7 linked regions of the Homo sapiens genome follow. The protein of the gene in region 6 purifies or fractionates together with the protein of the main gene of each other region. This does not show direct contact. Each region holds a gene or a part of one and is shown on either strand. Other genes may lie near its edges. The genes, in order: NSUN2, COPB1, KIF5B, MYO1E, ROCK1, DIAPH1 and PLXNB1.

Region 1 (3,500 bases), about 130 Mb from region 6:
AAAAAAAAAAAAAAAAGAAACTAAGATACGTACATATCACTCTCTATCCAAAGTGAAAAGAAGAAAAAAAGGACTAATTATATTAAGAAAAAATGGTTTCATCAAAACAAACAGGCATGACACTGGTAACAAGCTGCCCGCCCCCACGTTTCTAGTTGCTATATGCTACCTTATGATGAGGCCGCACGTTGAGGAGCAGTGGTGGGATCATGCTAACAGCTTCTTGACGACTAATATTTCCCTTGAGGAAAAAAAAAAAATCAGCAACAATTAGGAAAAAAAAAAAAACCGCAGACAATTTCAATCTTTGGCATTGTTTCAAAGGCAACAGGAAAACAGCACATAATCTTATACAGAATGAGAGAACTCATACTATCACACAGAACACTAAATGAGATGGATCTGTACACTAGCGGACAAATGGTTGCTATACCATTCAAATATTAGAAATTCAGGTATAATACCAACTTCCATGAAAGAAAAGGGACTTGAAGCTTACAGAGCCCCAACTCCCCATAGCAGTAGAGCACAGAAGCTAGAGGGGCAGCTCTCAAAGACAGAAATGCTATTAAATATTTAAACAAATACCTTCAACAGACAGCATCAACTTAGGACAGAAAGTGACTGTCAAATGGTTTTTCCTTCTTGCCTAAAATTCTATTTCTTAGTCCTCCACTATTTTCAGACATAGCCCATGCCCACTTTCTATTTCTCATAACTACCTTTCAAAGAGATGAAGACATCAACCACTGCTTCCATCTTTCCATCTTTAGACCTTCAATATCTAAAATTCCTCACCACACTCCCTGCCCTCTGTCTTCTCTAGTCGGCCAGGACATCTGTTACAAGGCAGAACTATTCAGGTGCAGACAAAATCCTCCTGCCCTGCCCAGCACTAGCCTCAACCACACCTCTACTTTAATCGCCTTGAAGCTGAGGCTTCTGCTCCAACACAACCCTACAAAAGCTGGGACTTCTGGAAATGAACAGCCACCCAGGCATCCATCACTCACCTTAAACTCAGGCATGTGACTGTCAAGAGCCTTAAATACAGGCTTTTACACTGATGGCTGCTAATTTTCACCTCATGGGTTTCTGGCCAGCATGAGTCTGTGGTGATTCACTCACTAGGCACACTGATTCCAAGCTTTTGAGTTATACGTGTGATCCTGATATGCCTGCCTTCTGTATCCATCCAAGGTTTTGATTAAAGCATTAAGTAAGATGGGGACATCCCGGCAGACAGTAACCAGATTCATGACCACCCTGTGTAGATGTTTTGTGGCCAGCTTTCCATAACCCAGAGGTTATTGCCATTCATCTCAAGAGCTCTCATCACGCTGACTCCTAATCAAAAACCTATACTAGTTCCCTACAACATTTGCTACCCACCCTAAACTCCCATCTCCTCCATCTTCCAAACATGCCAAAACCTGGCTCTTCCAACCTATCCATGTGTATCACACCCCACAAACCCCACGCTCTCTTCCAAGTGCAAACCTGAGCTGTTCTCTAGCAGCTTACTGATCTCTATTTGGCCTTCCATCTAGATTGAAAGTTGAGCAAGAGAATCCTTTCGTGCACTGGTCTCAAGTACGAAATGGGGTTATGTGGCAGCACTTAGTTCCTGGTTCTTGTTACTATTCAGGAAGGAAAAGCCAGGCAGACACAAGCCCAGTTTAGTCGGTTACTTAGATGACAGAAGGCCAAAGTGAAAAAGAACCATAATCTGGTGACACACAGATTTACTAGAAGGTAGTAGTTTAGAAAATAGGAAGGACGAAACCTCTGATTTTAAATGTGAGACTAAGAATTCCAAAAAAAATACCCAAACTTTATGGGCATTCATTGAATTATTTAGTACATAAGCAAATAGCTGTTTTGCTGGGGATGCTCTGATGCTAAAGGTAAAAAGCTCAGCACCTTAACTGCACTCAAGGAATGTGGGTGGCTACGGAGAATGTGAAGACAGATGCCGTCCTGTGAGGACCAAAGCTGTGCTTAGGGGTTTTGTGGTGCTTAGGTGTTTTGTGGTTACCAAGAGCAATGTGTGGTAAGAAAAAAAAAAAACACAGTAAAAAGTAAAATCAAAAGCTTCATTTTTAGTAAAATAAATCAATTTTAAAAAACAGAACCAAAAACCTATTCCCTACCAAGATGGCCTTAAAAACATACTACTTTTTATGTACAACAGGCATCTGAAATGTGTACCTAAGAAGGAAATGAGAGTGCAGTGCTCACCCCAACCCTATAGCCATCCAAATACACAAGCAAGAGGAAACAAGAAATTAACTAGCTGGCATCGATATCCTTACTAAATTTCATGACTAGATAAACCAAACAAGGCAACGGATATACAAATAATCAGAAATCACAGGTGGTGCACACACTGCAGTTGTCTTTACTGTGTGTGATGTCCACCTACTGCTTCTAGTGACAAGAACCTAAAAACAGAACTACACTACATCTATGCATTTACAGCTTTAAGGAAACTAGCAAGTCTAAAGAAATCAACTTACAGATTCTGTTTCACTAACTAGAAACTGATGAAACTTTTCCAAGTGTGGCGATTTTCTCAAGATTTTTCGACTTAAATTTGTGTGCCAGGCAAGTTCTTCAGGATACCTGACCAAAAAGAAAGCAAAACATTTATGGATTATAAATACTAAAGTCGTCTGTTGACAACTTTGTGCTTCTATCAGTCGCATGCCAAATGAGACTTCGAATGTTGTTCTCCCTGCTCCTATTCACAATCCTCTACGGACAGTCAGCAACACTCAGAGATGTCGCTGTAGGCTTAAGGAACATGGCTCTAGCTACACCGTGGCCCAATCAGAAACAGGAGAGCCATGGGGGTTACAAGATTATGCATATTACTGTAAAATTATAATGATGAAACGCTCGAGATCAGATGAAAAAGCGGACACTCCTCTGCTCTTCACCATTATAAGGTAACAATGGTAAGGTCATCAGAAAAAAAAGATACAAGATGACTTACTTAATGTGCAGATCACACAGAATCAAAATAATGCAGTGTCAGAGTGTCCCACAAATACCTGATTAGTTTTTTAAAAAATATATTTTTCATTATTTCTAACACCAGTTCAATAATGCACTAAAATATTTTACATACCAAAAAAATCCTACCTTGGAAACCACTAATGCATTAACTTGAGCTCCTAGGCTGTTACCTATATATAACTAAGAATAAAGCATTTCCTGCCATCATATCTGTGAATATATTTGAACTTTCTATAAATGATGACATCAATGTTATTTTTATTTTTTTTATTTTTTTTAATTAGGGGAGAAATGGGGGATACTAAAAACACTGCCTTTTTTTTTTTGAGACAGTCTCACTGTCACCTAGGCTGGAGTGTAGTGGTGTAATCTCAGCTCACTGTGACTTCTGCCTCCTGGATTCAAGTAATTCTCATGCCTCAGTCAGCCACCTGAGTAGCTGGGATTACAGACGTGTATTTTCAGTAGAGATGTGGTTT
Region 2 (3,500 bases), on a different chromosome or scaffold from region 6:
AAATGGGGTCATCAGGCTGTACTGTCACATTCCTCTTTTCAGATTCTTTCTGTGTTGAGAATATAACAAAGTCTCTCTTTAATATGAAAAGATAGTTTTTTAGAGGCTTTTGACAGAGACAGCCCTCACATATGAAAACTGAAAAATCAACAAAACAACAAGAAAACCCACAAAGCACTTTTCTTTTCTTTTTTTTCTTCCTGAGACAGGCTGTTACTCTGTTGCCCAGGCGGAGTGCAGTGGTATGATCACAGCTCACTGCAGCCTCGAACTCTTAGATTCAAACGATCCTTCATCCTCAGCCTTCCAAGTAGCTGGAATGACAGGCACATACCACCATGCCTGGCTAATTTTCTCATTTTTTTTGTTGAGACAGGGGCTTGCTATGTAGCCCACACTGGTCTCAAACACCTGGCCCCAAGGAGTCCTCCTGCCTCAGCCTCCCAAAGTGCTGGGATTACAGGCGTGAGCCACTGCACGAAGAGACACAAAACACTTTTGTTGCCTCATCATATATACCTTACCTTTTGGGATAATTTCTCTTCTTCTAGTTTAGCAGATAACATGTGAGAAAGGGACTGTCTGCATTCCTTATTGAAAATGTCATTCATTAAAGGTGAACATTCAGACAAGACCTTGAGGCACAGGGAAATTCGATCCACATCATCATCAGTAATTGGCTTCTTAGGAAGAGAGGATTTTCCCAAATGCAGGATAGTAGCCATGAGCAACATAGCCTCAGCAACAAAAGACTAAGAAAGTAAAGAAATCGGTTACTGATATTGTCTTGATTCTCAGATTGCAATCATGTCACTTCATTATAACTCACAATCTAAATTTTCACTTCACCTGAATAAGATTTCAAATTCTTTGGATTTTATGTCCATATCTGTTTTTGCATTCTTCTCCTTCCTTTCTACTCTTAACTGCCACTCTCTAAGACCTGCATTAATCCTCAATTAGAGACAGCAGAGGCTTTTTAACTGTTTTCCCTTGCTCCAGTCCTTCTCTGTAACCACTTCATATGCTGATGCTGTCCTTTTTAATCCCAACTACAGAAAAGTTAAAAGAATGATATACTTTACCAATTGTTAACATTTTGCCACATTTGCTTACCTATTCTGTATATGTACACTTATTTTTTTTGGCTGACATGTGAAAAAGTCTTCACCTCATAAATGCTTCAGCATTCATCTCCTAAGAGTCAGAACAGTTTCCTACAAACCACAATTTCATTTTCTCATCTGAAAAATTCAACAATTCCAAAATACAGCTTCTATACTCTGAATTCAAATAAATCTCCCTAAATTGTCTTAAAATGTTTTTGTTTTATTTTTTAAATCCAGGATCAGCTTCATGCATTTTATCCCTCTTAATCTAGACCAGTTCTCTGCCGTTTTGTTTTTAATCGCACTAACTTTTTTAAAGAACTGAGGCCAGTTGTTTTATAGAATATCCCACACTTTTGATTAGAATACCAGATAGGTGATGTTTTGTATTTCACCCTGTACTGCATCACAAGGTACCTAAAGTTAGGCTGTCCAATTATTGTGCTGCTAAGCGTGATCACCTGATGCTGCTATCTTAATCTTTATACTGCACCAATCATTTCATTCCCTATGTAAATACCTTTAATGAATGTCAGCCTTCATACTGAAGTCCGTATTACTTAGCTCGCTATTCAAAGTCTTCCACAAGTGATTGCAACTTACTTTTTTAGTCTCATGTAGCATTATCCTGACACATATGCTCTAAGCCCTTGCCAAATTGCCTTTGGCTGAGTACTGATCTGCACACATGCATGAAAAACTACTGGAGGCCTGGGAAAAACCAGCAGAAGAGTAAGTATATGTCCCCCAAGTTTGGATACTGTCTCCAAAAGGAGAGGAAAGAGAGGAGGGGACAGAAAAAAAAATCCGAGGAAATGACTGAAAATTTCCCAAACTGATGGAGATATAAACCTGCAAACCCAACAAGCTCAATGAACCACAAGTACAGCAAACATGAAGAAAACCACACTAAGGCATATCCTAATCAAATTACTGAAACCAAGTGAAAAGGAGAAAATCTAAAACCAGTGGAAGAAATACACACACACACACACACACACACACACACACACACACACACACACTCTCTCTCTCTCTACACCCAGGGAGATAAGAATGACAGTAGACTTCTCACCAAAAAGCCAGAAGACAATGGAGCTTTACTTTTACACTACTGGGAAAAAAAAACAGAAGACTTAGAATCCTATACCCACAAAGGTAACTTTCTAAAGTGTACAAAAAAATAGGCTTTTTCCAGACAAAAACTGGAACAATCTGTTGCCAACAAATCTGCACTATAAGAAAAGTTAAAGCAAATTCTTTAGGCAAAAGATGTATGATACCAGAAACTTAGTCCTACACAAAGAAATGAAGAGTGTTGGAAATGGCATAAATGAAGGAGTGCCAGTGAGATTATAAGCAACCAAACTTCCTTCTTGTACCAAACAGTGCAAACATTATTAACTCGGTATGTTACAAGAAACTGGCTCTTTTAAGCAGGTATCAGTAAACACTCCCAACTTCCAGAAGTGATGCAACCAGGAGAGGAAAGCAAATTCAACTCTGAGATAAAAAAATGTTGGAGACTTTTAAAAAACATACTTTAAAGATTATACTGTGACCAGACCTGAATAAATAAATGCCCACAAAAGAGTTACAAAATAAATTATTGCTCAAAAATCAAATCAATTAAGGGATAATATACCTTGTAAATTATCTGGCTCTCATTTATGGCTTTTCTTATAATGGAATTAAAACAAAAACAAAAAGAACCTGGCCAGGCACGGTGGCTCATGCCTGTAATCCCAGCACTTTGGGAGGCCGAGGTGGGCGGATCACCTGAGGTCAGCAGTTCGAGACCAGCCTGGTCAACATGGTGAAACCCCAGTCTCTACTAAAAATACAAAAAAAATTAGACAGGCGTGGTGGCAGGCGCCTGTAGCCCCAGCTACTCGGGAGGCTGAGCCAGGAGAATTGCTTAAACCCAGGAGGCGGAGGTTGCAGTGAGCTGAGATCATGCCATGGCACTCCGGCCTGGGCAAGAAGAGTGAGACTCCGTCTAAAAAAAAATTTTTTTTTAGATCAAGCTGTTAGTCTCCAAAAACGAAGGAAATATGAGTGATGTGAGTGAAAGTGTTTCAATTTAGAAACCTGCTGTATAGATAACCAACATAATACGAAAGCTGAAGGAATCAAAAGGAGTCCCATTGCTACAGGCCCAATTTGAATGTCAGAAATTGCTGTGGTAGGACATTGTAACCAACTCTGCGCTACTACCACAAATGTTCTATGGATTCTGTTTCTTAAATAATAAGAGTTGAAACTACTTGATCAGTGGCAGCATAATGGATGTTGTCTTAGCAGGCATGAAAACATTCATTTCTTTCTACATCTCCATCAGAGCTCTTGGGTGACCAGCTAAATTGTCAATGAACAGTAATATTTTAAAAG
Region 3 (3,500 bases), on a different chromosome or scaffold from region 6:
AGCAGAAAGTGACTTGTTGATGTTTTTAGCTTCATCCAGCACAGCACCTTCAGCTCCAGTTTTACTAACCTATACATAAGATTTCAAAAGAATGAAACAAAATTACAAGTTTATAATTTTCTTTACATTTTCTAAAATGTTCATATGTCATCAATAACCAGTAAAAAAGAAAAAAGAACATGAAAAGCTTCATGATCTTATTTGCCAAGCATACCACCATTTCTTGAGTACTACTCTTAAGAGTTTGATTAGAGAGACATCAAATTTTATCTGTAGTTTGTAGGTACTCTTGAAAATAACCAATTTAAATGTAAATTTGTAGTTCATTAATCTGTTAGTCCCCTTTGCTACATTAGAAAACAGGAACCTTCTAAAATTGGCTAATGCATAATGTTGATGTTGTAACTGTTAGAAAACAGAGACTGAGTTTTAAACACATTATATAAGCAAATCTGCTTCTTTTAAAAATATATAAAATATCTAAATATCTATGTTGTGGTGTTTTTTTTTTGGAGACTGAGTCTCACTCTGTCACCCAGGCTGGAGTGCAGTGGCTTGATCCCAGCTCACTGCAACCTCCGCTTCCCGGGTTCAACCAATTCTCCTGCCTCAGCCTCCCCAGTAGCTGGTATTACGGGCATGTGCCACCATGCCCAGCTAGTATCTATGTTAAAGATAGGTCAGAACAATAAATTAGCAATGTTGGCTGAAGAAATAGCTTAGGAGATTTCTCAGATTAGATAATCTTTGAAAGATGTGTGTAAGACTTCAGAGTAGAACGGAATAGATATATCATTCTAAGCAGAAGAAACAAAATTAGCACAACAGCAAAAATGGTCAGAGGTCCCTATTATAACATTCAAACTTAATTTGATATAGACTAGAATCAGACTGTATAGAATTGTAATAATGAAACAATAATCCAAAGGAAAGAAATAAGTCCAACCAAACCAGAAAAGACTAATCGAGAGTTACCAGTTTTAATAGGGACCCCACTGCCAATATGGATAAAATACGTATCAAAAATTAGAAAAGGGATATCTAATAAAGTTTATAACAACATATGCTGAACCAGTTCTCACTATGAACATATCTTAAGTCATAGAAACCACTTATGGGTTGAACTAGAGTATGGTCAAACAACAGTAACTTGGAACTGATTATTCAGCTGATATCATCATAAGGCACTGGCATCAGCGGTTACAAATCTCAGGTTACCAAATCCAGTTTGGTAAGTAAGATGCAACAATGAACCCTGCGTAACTCCCAACTCAAACTAAAGTTTACAAAGATGCTTAAATATTTGTCAAAATACATGAAGACTTTACCTTTTCACTACCAGCTAAATCAACCAGATAAAGTTTTCCACTCAGCTTTTGTTCCGTTTGTGTGTTCTCTTGTTTGACATTAATAAGAAATATACTGTGACTCCTAGAGCTATGTTCATTCATATCTGCAAGGAAATTACACAAACAAATATAAACAAACATGATTTCCCCTTAACAATTTCCCTGAAGCAATCTTATAATTAATCACCTGGATAAGGATATTTTAAGCTGGTTTTAAATCCTAACCAGTGTTATTTTCTACTTACTTGTAACTGCTACATGTCTGTTGGATTTTCCTTCATCTATGGTATCCATAACTTCATCTGGACTACATACAAAACGCTCTGTGCACCCCTGTGAAATAATTTTTAAAAATATGTTAATGTCTGGCCAACATGATGAAACCCTTTCTCTAATAAAAACACAAAAATTAGCCGGGCGCGGTGGCGGGTGCCTGTAATCCTAGCTACTTGGGAGGCTGAGGCAGGAGAATCGCTTGAGCCTGGGAGGCAAAGGTTGCAGTGAGCCGAGACCATGCCATGCACTCCAGCCTGAGCAACAGAGCGAGCCTCCATATATTAAATGAATTGGCTCACGCCTGTAATCCCAGCACTTTGGGAGGCAGAGGCGGGCGGATCACGAGGTCAGGAGTTCAAGACCAGCCTGGCCAACATGGTGAAACTTCGTCTCTACTAAAAATACAAAAATTAGCTGGGCGTGGTGGCGCATGCCTGTAATCCCAGCTACTCAAGAGGCTGAGGCAGGAGAACTGCTTGAACCCTGGAGGCAGAGGTTGCAGTGAGCCGAGATTGCACCACTGCACTCCAGCCTGGGCGACAGAGTGAGACTCTGTCTTAAAAAAAAAAAAAAAGTATTACAGGGTTTTCTAGACAACTGTACTATAAATACCTTTACATAGGGAACTCGGTTTTTGTCTTCATGAACTGAAAGGTTGGTCTTTGAAACTGAGAAAGAAAAACAAATGTTAGCAACATTCTCCTAAAACTCTTAACACTGGATATGAAATAACTGATAGGCTTTCCTGAGCAGCCTAACAGCAATAGTTGAACTCTAAAAACATATTAAAACATTGCTCTAAAGCAGACCTTACAGACACAGCAGGAGATGTAAATAGAAACCAATGCAACAATATAGAATTTTAGGACCACTCCAACCTACCACCCACATTTTATAAACAAGAACATTAACCCTGAATGGTTCAATGATTTGCCTAAGGACAATGTATCTAATTGACAGTTGACAGAAGACTAGAACTCAGGGCTCAGATTATGTAACTCCCAGTCCAATGCTCTAATTACTACTAAGAAGTACCCATAAACATCGCTTTAAACTAGTTATTCTATTTAAAGGTATTCAACTAAAACTTTAGAAGAAAAAAAATTTTGTCTATTTCCAATAACTTAAGACAATTTCATATAGGTTACAAAGAAATAGTCTCACATCTATTATTAAAAAGGAATTAACAGATGTTATTTAAAACTGATTAGCAAGAATTTAACTTACCATCTAACAGGTCCCTTATCTTATCCAAATATATTTCAAAATATGAAACCTAAAGGGCAAATTTAAAAAAACACCGATCAACTAAAGTTATATAACTTATTCGCATATTGAGGTCTGAGTGCTAGGCATTGTTTAGACTAGAGAGACAGTTATCAACATACCAGCCATAGCTCACATTCTAATGGGAAGACATAAATTAGCCAAATTAGCTTAGTTATTTAAGCAGTCTTCCCATTGGACATAAATTACATTATCTTCATCTAAAATGAATTAGAATAGTTTTATGTAGTAGAAACCTTCAAGTTCTGCAGTAAAGCAACCTCCTTTATTTTTTGAAGGAGGCTAAAGACTTAATCATTTACGTTAGTTAACATTCCTGTTCATCTAATGGCAGATGAACAAAAATCCAAGTTTACTAACCTGAATGATCTTTCAACTGTACCTTTCCAGAAAAACAATTTTTAAAATTAAAGAAACCAGCATTTACTATTTTTTTAGAACATTATTCTTGCTGTAAAATAAAATATAATCTTTCCTCAAGGAATTTACCTTAATATGAAATTCCAAATTTTCATCCATGGAGTAAATATAATTAAAAATATCTTGCACTATTCTTGGAATAATTCCCATGCCTTCTGGATCATGAAG
Region 4 (3,500 bases), on a different chromosome or scaffold from region 6:
GGATATAGGTTTGATGAAATTTTCAATATGAAAACAAACTTATGAGCTGGGTGTGGTGGTGTGTTCCTATAGTCCCAGCTACTCAGGAGGCTAAGGCAGGAGGATCACTTGATCCTAGGAGTTTGAGGCTGCACTGAGCTGTGATCACTCCTGTCAATAGCCACTGCCCTCCAGCCAGGCAACATAGGAACACTGTGTCTCTAATAAAGAAAAAAACAAAAACAAAACAAAACACCTGTGATGTTTAGTGGTTAGCATTTTGTTCCTTCATGCTATTGGGTCTGGATTATCATTTAATCTATTTGGTTTCTCAAAATAGCTTTCTTTTCTCTATATCAGTCTCTCCCTTTTATGTCCCTAACACTTCATGCCCCCAAATTCCAAGTGCCATCTACAGGTCCTTCAGGGCCTCAGGCTTTCTACCTTTCAATACTATTATCAGGGAGAAATAAGCCCACTGGCTTTGGATTGGGATGGCCATTTCTGACTATTTAAGAGTGGAACAGTCTGGTTCTATGATACTTTGCCCCTGAGCTCTTCTTCATGGTCGTTGAATTTTTAAAGATGGTTAATGGCTTAGCAAGACCCACATTAACCAGAGTCCCTGAAGTACTGAAGAAATGGCTTGAGAACTCTGGGAGGGACAACTAAAGAAGGAGTGACTAAGAGATCCATTTTAACTCCCAAGACCCTGTTTCAGCTGTAGGGGTAGAAGAGGGAGGGTATCCCCCTTGCACGCTGCTAGAACTCTCAAGACCACCTCTGCCTTCCTCCCCTTTTCCCTGAAAAGGTTCTCAAGATCCTGGATAACACATAAGATGTAATTTACATGAGCAAGTCCATCATGCTTGCGAGGCAAGGCCCATGCATGCCAGATCTTACAATTTCTAGAGCTTCTTTCAAGTAAGAGCTGCCCTTTTGCTCTCTATTAGTTAAGCTGTCACAATAGCAAGGCCAGCTTCTCTGATCAACAGCAGCGAGCCTGATAATTTCCTATTAAAGGGCTGACTGCAATGAAAGCAAAGCAAGAGTTTCCTTTTCAGGCCCTGGTCAGCTGTTCTGCTCCGTTTACTTCTCTCCCTGTAGCTCCCTACCCCTCCTCACCCTCTGCTCTCCATCCCTGCGCTTCCTTGCAGCCACACCACCATTTCTGAGATTTTGCATTTCTTTTTATTCAAAACATACATAATCAATTTGTTCTTCTCTGAGATGTTTAGGTAAGCCACAAGTCCTGGCTTGTGGGTTTTATGGCAGTCAGGTGCAGACTTGCTTCCAGAGATTGTTTTTAAAAAATTATTAAAATTCCTGCCAAGTTTAAGAGCTATTATTGCTTCCACATAAACTGCTGTCATACGGACATGGCCTATTATTTTGTAAACACACTTGATGTCAAAATCTGTAGTTGTATCTGGTCAAGTTAAAAGTAGACTGCTGGGGAGACTTCCTGGAAAATTCAAGATGCCCAAAAAGTCATTGAGGAGGAAGTGAGTTTGAGTTTGAATGTCAGATTGCTAATTTACATGGATCCCGTCATTCACCCAGTCAGCAAATACATATTATGGACCAACTGTGCACCATGCTATGCTTCAGACACCAGGGACACTAAGATGAGTAAGGCATTGTCCCTGCCCTGTTGCTAGTGAGGCAGACGTATAAACACATGCAGCTCAAATAGCACCACTAATGAAAGTATCTTCAGGCTGGGTGCAGTGGCTCATGCCTGTAATCACAGCACTTTGGGAGGCCAAGGTGGGTGGATCACGAGGTCAAGAGATCGAGACCACTGTGGCCAACATGTTGAAACCCCGTCTCTACTAACGATACAAAAATTAGCTGTGGTGGCACGCACTTGTAGTCCCAGCTACTCAGGAGGCTGAGGCAGGAGAATCACTTGAACCTGGGAGGCAGAGGTTGCAGCGAGCCAAGATCGCGCCACTGCACTCCAGCCTGGTGACAGAGCGAGACTCCATCTCAAAAAAAAAAAAAAGAAAGTATATTCAGCCGGCAGAGCCTGGTGATTTGTTACTGCTCCGCTTAAAATTGCTCATACTCAAAAGCAGTTTGTCAGGGTTTTCTGTGTAGAGCTGGGAACAGTGTGCTACTGGCATCTGGTGAGCAGAGACCATGGATGCTGCTAAATATCCCACAATATGTAGAAGAGGCGCCCTCCTCGGCCCCCAACAAAGAATTATTCAGCCGCAGATACCAATGGTGCCCAGACTCAGAAACTCTGCTCTAGAGCAAAGCAGCATCTGCACTGAATCCAGACATTTCATATAATTCCCTGAGCTCTGGTCTATCTTGCTTGTCTTAACAAACACATGCTGGCCAGGCGCAGTGCCTCATGCCTGTAGTCCCAACACTTCAGGAGGCTGAGGCAGGAGCACCTCTTGAGTCCAGTTGTTTGAGACCAGCCTGGGAAACATGGCGAAACCCCATCTCTAAAGAAAATACAAGAATTAGCTGGACGTGGTGGCGTCTGCCTATATATAGTGCCAGCTACTCAGGAGGCGGAGGTGGGAAGATGGCTTGAGTCTGGGAGGTCGAGGCTGCAGTGAGCCATGATTGAACCCCTGCGCTCCAACCTGGGCAGTAGAGCGAGACCCTGTCTCAAAAACAAAACAAAAACCTAAAATCCCCTACTGACCTCCCTCTGTTATGTTCTGTCAAGATATACCTCAATTCCTGTGACTAGGGACGTTGGAAAGGCATTGTTTTAAAATTTATTTTGCAGTCTTTGATTCCAAATTGCTTATATCTTAGAATTCTTTCCCTTCATGACTTTTGTCCGTTGTTCATTTCCCCAAGTCACATCTTGATGGCCCGCGCTGTGAGTCAGATGGCTTTTCTGTAGCCAAGGTTATGTGCCTGGGGACGGCCCTTCACCCCATCCTCTAGAAAGGCAGGCTTTCAGCCCCAGAGGTACTTACAGATTGTTAATTCATTCTCTTTCTCCTTTTCCAGGCCTTTCATAAAGTCTTTATTTCCGGAAAATCTGCAGGCTGACAAGAAAGGGCGCCCAACTACTGCCGGAAGCAAAATAAAGGTTAGTTCTATTTTAGGAAGTTTATAGATTCTTATAAGGGCTAGCGCTTTCTAGGAGTAAGGAACTGCACCCCTGGGCCAGGATGAGGTCAGTGAGACGTGAGGAGGTGGTTACAGAAGATGCCCAGAAGTAACATCGCTGCTTGTTACAAGGTTCCAGGATGCAAGCTGAATTTGACTTGGCTGTACCGAAACCTTAAATGGATATTAAGTACCTCATAGCTTAATAGTCAGCAGATGATAATCAGCTACTTTCTAAGAGGAAATGGCTTTAAACAGAACCTGGAAGAATTTATGTTAAACTGTCAGAGAAATATGGTTCGGAGCCATGTTTTGGATACTGTTGACAGTTTACCAGGCCAGGCCCAAAAACCTGCCAGTTATGGAACGTTACTTGCCAGAAATTCTACTTGGTCTTTTAGGGGCAATTTATGCATCCCTCCTCACTGGGTCCT
Region 5 (3,500 bases), on a different chromosome or scaffold from region 6:
GTTTTTTTAAAAGAAGTTCCTGCAACATACTAACATCCAAAAAAGTCTGGTCCAAACTAACCAGATATGCAATTGATACTAATAACACCTATTAACTCACAAACTAGGAACACTGGCAGAGATACAACTTTAAGGCTCAAAGATTTAATGACCTCAGGTCTTTTCATTCCAAGAGTAATATACCCCCAAAACAGATCAATTCAACTGGCAAGGCATACAGGGGATTAGACAGCAATAATCCAGATTCGAAAATGCTACCCAAAATCTGCTGTAATAACCCAATGTGTGGACTAACACTGTCAAAAAAGTTCACAACAAAAATTTCAGTTTAGCGACAGGGACAATAGTGGAATTAATGACAAAACAGATAAGTTTATGGGAGGAAGCTTGTTTTGGAATATGAGGGATTTGAGACTAACATGACATCCAAGTAGAAATGCTTACAAGGCAGTCAGATATTTAAGGTTTGAAACAAAAGACTAAAAATAAAGATTTGGGTATCATGTACATAGAGATAATAATAATTGAAGCTGTAAGAATGGATGAATTCTTCAAGAGAGTGAAGACAAAGATAAGTATGATAGGCCAAAGATTGAGGAAAAGAAAAAAAGAAGAATGAAAAGATGGGAAAGCACTAGGTCAAGAGAGCCCAGGAAGATAATTTAAAGGAAGAAAAACTCAAAGACTAACACCAGAAATTTCATTTACATTTATCTTCCACATTCTGAAAAACTCCCTAATAAGAAATAGTAGTGACAAACAGCACAGTGTTAGAACTCAACAGGCACTATTTGACTAATACTGGTTCCCTTCTGTCTCCTCCGCTCACCCGTTGCTACACCTCCACCAGCCAGAAGAGAAGTGGAAAGGTCATGTTCTTAACAGGCATCATGAAGCGATGTGCCAATAAATATGCTACAAGCAAGATATTTTCATGAAAAGTATGTCAAACTTCAAAACAAATGTATCTATAACCCTCCCAACCATTTTTGTTTTTCCTTTTTTTTGAGACAAGTTCTCACTGTGTCGTCCAGGCTGGAGTGCAGTGGCACAATCTCGGCTCACTGCAACCTCCCCGTCCTAGGCTCAAGCAATTCTCTGGCCTCAGCCCTCCAGGAGCGAGCCACTGCACCCGGCCTTGTTTTTCCTATTTAATTTACAAATCATAAGCATTTTTTCCTCTGCAAAGATTAAATAGACTTAACTAAACTCCATCCCTTATTCTGTTTTCAAAGGTACTCAAAATCACTGAGAAATTATTACAGGCCCTAGACAAAATAATTAGAAGATAAGGAAGTCCGGAAAAGAGAAATAGCTCCCGATAATCCTTATAAACTGTAACATGGACAGTAAGAAAGACAACCATTAGGACACTGGAAAGAATCTGACCTACAGAAAACCAAAGTTGACTAATTTGAATGCTCTAGGAAACAAGTGAATGGTTATCATAATGTATCTTAGTATTTGCAGACTATTTTAGCATTTATACATGATATGAAGATTGAACTTACTTAGTTCTTGAAAAAAATTACAGGTGTTCGAGAAAAGATTGGATAGCCACTTATCAGAGTTCTTCCAGCTACATTATTCTAAACTACTGCAGGTTGAGTATCCCTTGTTTAAAATGCTTGGAACTAGAAGTGTTTCAGACTGCAGACTTTTTCAGATTTTAAAATATTTGCATATACATAAGATACCCTGGGGATGGGGACCAAGTCTAAATAAGAAATTCATTTACGTCTCATACATACCTTATACACAACAACCTGAAGGTTATTTTTTGCAATATTTTAATAATTTTGTGCATGAAACAAAGTTCTGACTGCATTTTGACTGCAACCCATCTCACAAGGTCAGGTGGATTTTCCACTTATGGCGTCATGTCAGCACTCAAAAAGTTTCAGATTTTGAGCACTTCAAATTTCAGATTACGGATGCTATTCATCATTAGTGTCTCAACAAAAAAGCTGTTTAGTAGGTAAGGTAGTTTAAAAGGACATACACCAGCAAATTTCTGAAACCAAAAGATTTGGAAGTTTCCATTTCTAAGCATGAATCTAGTAAAGGAGGTAGAGAAGAAACAATTTGAAAACCTTATTTTTGGGATTACAAAAACAACTCTAGAACTAAAGGACTGCACGTGGCACATAATACACACTAATAAGTAAGTATCAGTTACACAAATCAACAAAAGTCAAAATAACAGAAAAAGGCAACCAATGTAAAAGGAGTTTTGTTCCTATAATACATGAGAGGTCCAAAGTCCAGATAGGGAAGAACAAGAACAGACTCACTGAAAAAGCTGAAGTCACCTGATAGGTCACCCTGAATGACACAATGAATGAATGAACGAACGAATGCTCAATGTTAAACATAAAACATCATGCGAAGAAAATTCATGCTAGATACTACAAACCCAGAAAAAGGATTTTTTGTCTCTAAAGGAAATTCAGTCTTGGGCCAGGCACGGTGGCTCACGCCTGTAATCCCAGTACTTCGGGAGGCCAAGGCAGGCGGATTCCTTGGGGTAAGGAGTACAAGACCAGCCTGGCCAACATGGTGAAACCCCATCTCTACTAAAACTACAAAAATTAGCCAGGCGTGGTAGTGCACGCGTGTAATCCCAACTACTCGTGGGGGCTGAGGCAGGAGAATCACTCGAACCCAGGAGTCGGAGGTTGCAGTGAGCCAAGATCGCGCCACTGCACTCCAGCCTGGGCAACAGAGTGAGATTCCATCTCAGAAAAAAAAAAAGGAAAATTCAGTCTTTACCAAGTTCAGATTGACGGGGTAATAAAATTTCAGTAACAGCTATCAATAAACAGCTGTGGAACTAAACAGAAAAAGAGGACAAGATTATAAGATTTGAAGGGGAAAAAACAACCAAATCTGTCTGTTGACTATTCTCTTTAACAAAATGTTGTTTTAGAAGTGTTGGGCTCCATGATACCTGGCTGTCCTAACTCTGGAGGCCTTGATGGCTTACCTCCTCCACTCTTCCTCTTTGTTCAACCTTCATCTTTCACCCTCATTTTTCCCTCCATTGTTTCTCCCTTTACCATTATATCAACTTGCACCTTTGTGCAAATGACTTCTAAATCATTATCTGTAATTATGAGCTCAGTTCTGTATCTCCAACAGTCTACAGGTCATTTTCTCATGATTGCTCCACTATCCCCTCAAACACAACGAATCTAAAATTGAATTTATCTGTAGGCCTATTCTTCACAAGCAATTTCCAAACCTGACTTTGCTATTTTTACCATTCTCCCTATAATCCAGGCTCAACCTCTTTAGAGTCATCTGACTATTGCCTCTCTCTTTGGTTCCCCATCTTTTCCCTGCCAATAAAGTTCCATTAATTCTTCTTTTCTCATTCTCATGCCCCAATTTTGGGCTTCAATCATTTCTGGACTATTACAATAATAACAATTTTAAAAAACTGTCCAATCTCACTGTCTCTCCAATCTTTTCCCATGCTAACCCATCTTCCACACACC
Region 6 (3,500 bases):
CGTGTGCAGCCCTCATCCCACATGTCAGCGGGACTCCACCTTCCCCCACTGCATCCTAGCCAGTACCTGGGGACAAACCCTGGAGTCCCAGGGGAAGGTGAAGGATACTTGGTGTGGGCTTTAATAGCATTACGAAGTTGTGGCTTACAACTAAGGGCAAGGAAATTGCTTTACAGAAAAGTATAAAAAGTCCCTGGTAGCAAGAGGTATCAGAGCAGCCCTTGTGCCTGTGCTCTGTAAAATACTGATTCCTAACAAACTCAGCAGCTCTGTGAACACCTCTTCATTTGCAGAAGGTTTGTGGCCCCTCAGGTTTAGAGGAGGGTGGCATGGGCTCAGTGCTGTGTGAGCAGTGTATGCTGTATTTCCGCTGCCCACAGAGAGAGCAGTGGGGGCGAAGGGGTAGGGAATCTGCAGCAAGAAAGAAGCAGAGACAGGAAACAGAGGGCCAGTAATTGAAACCATATGTTTCAACAAAGACATGCTTCTGGTAGTGAAACAGAGATTCTGCTGAAGAAAGAAGAGGGTGACCGGCTCCCCACCCGCTCCAAAAGTTCAATCCATTTAAAATCTAATTGTGCATACAACTGTGCTAAGGTACTAGGGACATAGTACTTTGTGAAATAAGCAGAAAGGGAAGACACGCCACAATTAAAAGATGGGAGGAGCGTCAGGAAAATATTTTACAGAAAAAAACCCGAAAGATTTAGTGGAGGGAATGAGAACAGGCCAGAGGAACCTTTGGATGGACAGAAGGAAAACAGTATATATCACAGCAATACCACAATCACAGGGGAATGAGAGAGAATGCAAGAGCGAGCAAAGGAGAGAAAAGGTAATAGTTTAACCAGGGCAAGTTGGAATGCGCATGTATCAGAATTGGGGTTAAAGTCCGGCATCAGGATCTCGGAGTGAAGACTGCCAAAAATCATTTGCCAGGAGGTGAGCTCAGACATGAGACTCTGCCTCTAGACTCTAGGCAGAGAAGTCTTCCCAACATTCCTATCTCAGCCCATCAACCCGTCTTCACTCCTCACCTGCATTCATGTCTATGAGTTGCTCTCTCTTCTGCTGCTTCTCTAGCCGCTCCTTCTCTGCCTTCTCCTTGGCTAGTTTTGCTCGCCTCATCTTTTCTTCTGTCTCCCGCCGCTTCTGGTTCTCCTTGACTGCTTGCTGGGGCAGGGAAGAGGAGGAAGGAACACATGGGCATTGTATACCTACTACCAGCCAACAGGAACCCAGGGGAAAGTGAGAAATGCCCACAAAAGATTCAGTCAGCAAGTATCCCTTGCTCACCAAAAACATATTCCGAAAATTGTGAAGATCCATGAAAAATTCTTCAACAGACAACTTCTTGGGGTCAAAGAGGAAGTACTCGCCCAGCTCCTTATAGAGGGTCTCCATGTTAGAATGCATCATCCGCAGCTTGTTATACTGTTCCTGTGCATCCTTCACAAAGCTGTGCAGCCAAGGAGTAAAGGACCAAGACCAAGACCAAGAAGCAGACCCACTTCTCTAGCCCAAGGAATTACTCAAAGATGAGTACTGGCATGCAAAGGGATGTTCAATACAGCACTGTTTATAACAGCAAAAACCAAAGCCATGTAGGTACCCCTAAATAGGGGAATAGTAAACCATGAACTATGGTACACCTATAAAAAAAGAAGGTGGCAGTTTAAACTGTTGTTTGTTTGTTTGTTTGTGTTTGTTTGTTTGAGACAGGGTTTTGTTCTATCGCCGGGCAGGAGTGCAGTGGCGCGATCTTGGCTCATTGCAACCTCCACCTCCTGGGTTCAAGCAATTCTCCTGCCTCAGCCTCCCAAGTAGCTGGAACTACAGGCGCGCACCATCACGCCCAGCTGATTTTTTTGTATTTTTAGTAGAGATGGGGTTTCACCATGCTGACCAGGATGGTCTCCATCTCTTGACCTAAAAGGAGGTTTTCTATAAATACTATTATGGAAACATGGCCAAGACATATGTGCAAAACACAATACAATGCAGTTTTTGTTTAAAATAAATGTATGAGGTGCAAATCAGAATAAAGTCCAGTGGCAGTGGTTACCTCTGGGGAGGGGAAAGAGAGGGAAGCATGTGTGAGCGTGTGTAGTGGAGACGGGGTACAGGCAGGGGAGTTGGTGGGACTTTTATGGTTGATCTGCATGGTGTGCTTCTACTCCACAACAATGGAATGCTCTCAGGAACTATGCAGCCTGGGCAACAAAGTGAGACCCCATCTCTAAAGAAAAAAAGGTTACAAAAAGTTTAGCAGGGCCTGGTGGCACATGCCTGTAGTCCCAGCTACCAAGGAGGCTGAGGGGGTAAGGATCGTTTGAGTCCAAGAGGTCAAGGCTGCAGTGAGGCGTGATGGCACCACTGCACTCCAGCCTGGGTGACACAGAGAGAGCCTGTCTCAAAATACTAACAAACCCAAAAAACTATGTATTTAAAGAAAAAGAGTTTTTTAAGAGAAAAAAATTGCATACTGCCCTATCTATCCTGTTTTTCCCCCACTACAGGAAGTTTTCTTTCCCTTCCTAGGGAACAACTCCCTCCTTTCAAGAGAGGATATGGTCATTTTTTCAACAAACTTGTCTTTTTCATCTGTGGCAGCTGGGAAATTCTGAACATCACGTTCCACATCAGAAATTTGTTTCTTCATCTGATCTAGGTTCTTTTGCAAGTTTTCAGCAGAAACTAAAAAAAAAAAAAAAAAAAAAAACCATAAAAACAGACAGCAAGAGCTTACTAATAATCCCAGCCTCAACACCCCTTAGTTTCACCTTTCAGAGCATAGCTTCAGTCTATACACACATTCTGGTACTTAATAATTTTAGTTCCTTATGTACTTTAGTTGTGTCACATACTTAAGTTTTCATCTTTCCAGTGAAACTATAAATTATTTGATCATTGAACCTCCAGCCTTCACAAGGTATGCAGTACTAGGAACAGAAGAGAGACTTCATTTAATTTAACATGAATCTATGAAATCCCCTGAGATCTTGGTCTCATTTATTTTAGAGAACAGGGTTTGGGAGGAAGGAGATATACATAGAAATATAGAGGCGGGGGCAGAAATCTGTTCCAATTTCCAGTGAATGCTGCTTTTTCTTTGTCTAGTTCCAGGACAGTGAGGCCTAATTTTTGTTAATGTAGTCTATGTTTTCTTAATGAAAAGAACTATTAACCTAGACTAAAAACACCTGCCTTTCTAGCTGTTTTTTGGTGTTTGGTGTTTCCTTAGGAAGAGAAAGAGTGCTTCCTATTTCTACACATAAAGATCTCTCCTCAGCCATACGCTCTGCCCTTGTGACTTAGGCACCATGCCTAAATCCTATCTCATTTCCACTTGAAATAGTCTGAACTGAAAATGCTCTCACATCTAGACTGTGTCTTATTTCCCTCCCCATGCAGAGACTTTTGGGCTCTAGCTTCATTCCAAACTGCCCCACCTCGGCTGGCTTTCTCCACATGGGCAAGCTCGTCTGGAAACTTGAGGA
Region 7 (3,500 bases), on a different chromosome or scaffold from region 6:
GAGCAGGGAAGGACTAGCCCCAGGTGAGATGTCCGAAGCTGTGGCTGTGGAGGGAGCCCCAGGCTCCACGGGAAGGGTGTCAGGAGCAGGGGTGGCCAGGGCTTTGGGGGCTGTGGGTGGGGAGGGGCTGGGTCCACCTCTTGCAGGAGGGTCTGGGGAGACAAGCGGGCTCTGAAGGGGGAGGCAGAGGAAGACAGGAAGGGCCACTCAGCAGGCAGGCGCGGGACAGGAGGCAGGCAGGCACAGTGTATGTTAAGAGGAAAGGAGACCAAGGAAAAGAGAAATAAAAACAGCCCATTAATTCTCCACTGGAGAAAACTGCGGGGGAAGGCTCCAGGGGTGTCTGTGCCGAGGTGGGGCATGAAGGCCAGACATCCCCTGCCTCTCAGCTACAAATGCCCTCTCCCAAAACAGGCGGGATGTATCGGCGGCTGTTCTCCAGGGAGTCCGTCACATACAGCGGCTCTGGTGCTCAGGACAGAGCCTCACATAGGCAGACAGACCCCGGGCCATGAGAAAAACTCTCACACTGGGACCCCCAACCCCCCCGGTATGGCCCAGCCCAAAGTCACACTCACCTGATGGCTTGCAACCATGGGCCCAGCATCACACGAGGCCTTGTGGGTGCACAGGTGCTGCCAGACACACCAGTTACACCCCCAGCGGCTGCTCACACAGGCCTGGCACCTGCACAGAGCACAGCCATGGGGCAAGGGTCGCCACAGGGAAGCCCAGGCCTGGGGACAGGGCGAGGAACTCACTGCGCAGATGGGCGGAGTTCAGTGACCGCCACACAGTCATAGAAAGAGAGGGAAGTTTTGGCGATCACAACAGCGCCAAATCTGAGCTCCACGCTCACGGATACGTAGTCTGCAGAGGGGGAGAGAGGGCCAGGGTTAAGCAGCAAGGAGGTGCACTCAGACCCAGAGCCGATATCCTGAGCCCTTGAATGGGGAAGAGGACCCGGGATGAGGGAATACAGTCCAAGGGCACAGAATGGAGGCTTCAGGTGGTTGGGGAGTGGGAGGACCCAGAGAAAGGCATCCATTCATGGCTCTTTGCCTGGATTCACACTTTAACCCCACCGCATCCCCTGAAGCAGGGGCTGGCCCCCACCAGGCTGGCCCATTCTCTCACCCACCGGCTCCTCTCGGCAGCACTGGGGCCTCACTAGGGTCTGGGGAGGGGCACATCACACCAGAACCAGTCAGCAGGGCAGGACTCTGATGTTCCCCAAAGTGGCAGGAATATGACTCCCCTGGCCACAGGGGTGGCAGGTCTGGCACTGATAGGAAAACCTGCCAAGAGAGCCAGGGACACACTGTTGGGGCTAGTGGGCAGCAGACCAGGGCTCACATTTATGGGACACCCAATGTGGGCAGGCACCAGCAATCAACAGCCCTCAGGCCTCCCCAAACACCCTCTGGCCTGAGTTAGAAATAGATGGGGAAACTGAGCTCCTAAAAGAAGTGACTTGTGTGAGGCCATGTGGTATCTGGCATGTCCGACATCAGGATCCAAGATCTCTACCCAGACCTTGATGCCCAGAGCCCTCCCCACCAGGGCCCTGCCTATCTGATCATTCACCTCCCTCGTCTCCTCTCGGCTGATGTTGGCAGGACTCATGGCTGCCACTTGCAGACAGCCCAGCTCAGGCTGGAAGCTCCATAGCCACTGCTCTGGGCCCTGGCCCCTCGAGCACTCAGAACGGCGACTGCACCTGGGCGAGATGACCAGTGTCTATCTGTGACCCTCATGGGCCACTGGGAGTTCATAGGGTAGGGACTCCTACAATCTGGAGGACCTGGGCAGGGCCCTAGAGTGGGCATGATAGAGGCTCCTGTGTCTGCCCTGGCAGGGCACTGATGCCCAGTGCAGAGGATGGGGGTGAGGAATTGGGGTGTCTGGGGATCAGGGGTTGAGAGTCATGGTCTAAGGGTCAGGAATTCTGGACAGGACAATTATGCAGGAGCATTGTGGGCTTGAGGCTGGGGCTGGGATGGGGTCAGAAATCTGACCTGCCAAGGAGCACGCACCACCCACAGTATGGGTCCCTGTGAGCAAGGCAAGATGCACAGTCCAGGTGCTGAGCACAGGAAGCCACAGGAACCTTCAGAAGCTGAGACAGCAAAGAGGACCTGAGGCCAGCAATCCAAACACCAGTGGCTCACCCACAAGTGGGTCCCTGGCCCCACCCAGAGGCCCCTCCCAGCAGCCATGCCCTGGCTTGTGCCTGGCACTCACTGTGCTCTGGGTCATGACATACAGGTGCTCAAAGGTCCCATCAAAGGTGAGGTCTCTGCTCACTGCAGACCCCTGCTGGATGCTCTGTGTGGAGTATGGGTGGCCATCGCTCCCTGGGCCCAAGTAGACCTGGGATCAGAGACCACAGGGTCTGGGACCCAAGTCCATGGCCAGAGGCCCAAAGCCCTCCCCTCCTCCACCCAATCGAAGTAATTTACAAATAGAATTTCCTCCTAGGCAGTCACAGGTCATACCAACTGGCCTAGCGGGGATGGAGGAAAGTCACAGGTAAACACCACCCAGTCCTGGGGAGAGGAGCTCAGGTCATCTCTCCTGGCCCAGGGGTCACAGGGATAGCTTAAACCAGGCTGGGTCCCTAGCAATCTGTTCCCTCCAGACTCTGGGGCAGGGGCCAGTACTTCCTGTGGGCTCACCCTGTGCAGCTGCCCTTGACTATCACCCAGGAAAGCGATGGTGTGTCCATCTTCCATGGTGACTGCCACAGCTGTTAGCTGAATCCCTGGCCACTCCAGAATTGGTGTGGCTTCCAGCGGGACCCGGCTGGCCATGGGGCTGGGCGTGTGGTCTGAGCCACAGGGATAAGCATCCAGGGTGTCCTATAGGCAGCAAGAAGCATCAGGAAGGCCCTCCCTGGATAACCTCCTCGGCCGCATCGTCCCTGGACAACCTCATTCCCTCCCCCAGCCGCTCTGGTAGCTCTCCCTGTACAACTGTGTTTTCTCTGCTGGCCCTCCTGGGACAATCTCATCCCCGCCCCCAGTCTCTCTTCCCTTTTTTATCCATCCTGAGGCTACAGCTCATCAATCCCGACCTCACCTTCCTCTCCTGCTCAAGAACCAAAGGTCTCATTCCATTCTAGGTCCCTGTCCCTACCCAAGAACCCCCAAACACCCTCCCAATCCACCGACACAAGTGCCACCCCTCCAGCATCCTGGTCCAAGCCCATCCAGACACTGCTGCCACCCGCATGCCAGATTTGTGGTAAGGTACCCTTCCACTGCCCAGGCAACATAGGAAGCACTTAATATTTGCTGATCTGATCATCCTCGTGCTACCACCAGCTGCCCTCGGACTCTCTGGGCAGCTCCTTGGCTGCAAATGCTTGGCCAGTGGCCTCAGAGAGGCGGAAAAGTGGGGCAATACTGGAACTCACCACTGGCAGCTGTGCACAGTCAGAATTGACATCATACTCGATGTAGGCCACCTCGGTCCCATCCTCAGCACGACCCTCCCGG

The links.
Region 1: the proteins of DIAPH1 (region 6) and NSUN2 fractionate together in Homo sapiens (co-fractionation; one large-scale study listed by BioGRID). This does not show direct contact.
Region 2: the proteins of DIAPH1 (region 6) and COPB1 fractionate together in Homo sapiens (co-fractionation; one large-scale study listed by BioGRID). This does not show direct contact.
Region 3: the proteins of DIAPH1 (region 6) and KIF5B fractionate together in Homo sapiens (co-fractionation; one large-scale study listed by BioGRID). This does not show direct contact.
Region 4: the proteins of DIAPH1 (region 6) and MYO1E fractionate together in Homo sapiens (co-fractionation; one large-scale study listed by BioGRID). This does not show direct contact.
Region 5: the proteins of DIAPH1 (region 6) and ROCK1 fractionate together in Homo sapiens (co-fractionation; one large-scale study listed by BioGRID). This does not show direct contact.
Region 7: the proteins of DIAPH1 (region 6) and PLXNB1 purify together in Homo sapiens (affinity purification with mass spectrometry; one large-scale study listed by BioGRID and IntAct). This does not show direct contact.

What each region holds. Positions count from the first base shown.
Region 1 is NC_000005.10:6,623,045-6,626,544, forward strand, and holds part of NSUN2 (RNA cytosine C(5)-methyltransferase NSUN2), read right to left. Parts: intron 2,626-3,500; coding exon 2,520-2,625; intron 242-2,519; coding exon 170-241; intron 1-169. UniProt on the Homo sapiens protein: RNA cytosine C(5)-methyltransferase that methylates cytosine to 5-methylcytosine (m5C) in various RNAs, such as tRNAs, mRNAs and some long non-coding RNAs (lncRNAs).
Region 2 is NC_000011.10:14,468,812-14,472,311, forward strand, and holds part of COPB1 (coatomer subunit beta), read right to left. Parts: intron 753-3,500; coding exon 525-752; intron 50-524; coding exon 1-49. UniProt on the Homo sapiens protein: The coatomer is a cytosolic protein complex that binds to dilysine motifs and reversibly associates with Golgi non-clathrin-coated vesicles, which further mediate biosynthetic protein transport from the ER, via the Golgi up to the trans Golgi network.
Region 3 is NC_000010.11:32,035,926-32,039,425, forward strand, and holds part of KIF5B (kinesin-1 heavy chain), read right to left. Parts: coding exon 3,402-3,500; intron 2,902-3,401; coding exon 2,853-2,901; intron 2,294-2,852; coding exon 2,238-2,293; intron 1,683-2,237; coding exon 1,595-1,682; intron 1,454-1,594; coding exon 1,329-1,453; intron 70-1,328; coding exon 1-69. UniProt on the Homo sapiens protein: Microtubule-dependent motor required for normal distribution of mitochondria and lysosomes. Can induce formation of neurite-like membrane protrusions in non-neuronal cells in a ZFYVE27-dependent manner.
Region 4 is NC_000015.10:59,201,872-59,205,371, reverse strand, and holds part of MYO1E (unconventional myosin-Ie), read left to right. Parts: intron 1-2,964; coding exon 2,965-3,046; intron 3,047-3,500. UniProt on the Homo sapiens protein: Actin-based motor molecule with ATPase activity. Unconventional myosins serve in intracellular movements. Their highly divergent tails bind to membranous compartments, which are then moved relative to actin filaments.
Region 5 is NC_000018.10:21,105,314-21,108,813, forward strand, and holds part of ROCK1 (rho-associated protein kinase 1), read right to left. Parts: intron 1-3,500. UniProt on the Homo sapiens protein: Protein kinase which is a key regulator of the actin cytoskeleton and cell polarity.
Region 6 is NC_000005.10:141,525,001-141,528,500, forward strand, and holds part of DIAPH1 (protein diaphanous homolog 1), read right to left. Parts: coding exon 3,453-3,500; intron 2,698-3,452; coding exon 2,573-2,697; intron 1,462-2,572; coding exon 1,297-1,461; intron 1,174-1,296; coding exon 1,038-1,173; intron 1-1,037. UniProt on the Homo sapiens protein: Actin nucleation and elongation factor required for the assembly of F-actin structures, such as actin cables and stress fibers. Binds to the barbed end of the actin filament and slows down actin polymerization and depolymerization.
Region 7 is NC_000003.12:48,420,087-48,423,586, forward strand, and holds part of PLXNB1 (plexin-B1 precursor), read right to left. Parts: coding exon 3,419-3,500; intron 2,862-3,418; coding exon 2,679-2,861; intron 2,374-2,678; coding exon 2,245-2,373; intron 2,120-2,244; coding exon 2,019-2,119; intron 1,721-2,018; coding exon 1,588-1,720; intron 1,299-1,587; coding exon 1,142-1,298; intron 871-1,141; coding exon 762-870; intron 688-761; coding exon 579-687; intron 172-578; coding exon 1-171. UniProt on the Homo sapiens protein: Receptor for SEMA4D. Plays a role in GABAergic synapse development. Mediates SEMA4A- and SEMA4D-dependent inhibitory synapse development. Plays a role in RHOA activation and subsequent changes of the actin cytoskeleton.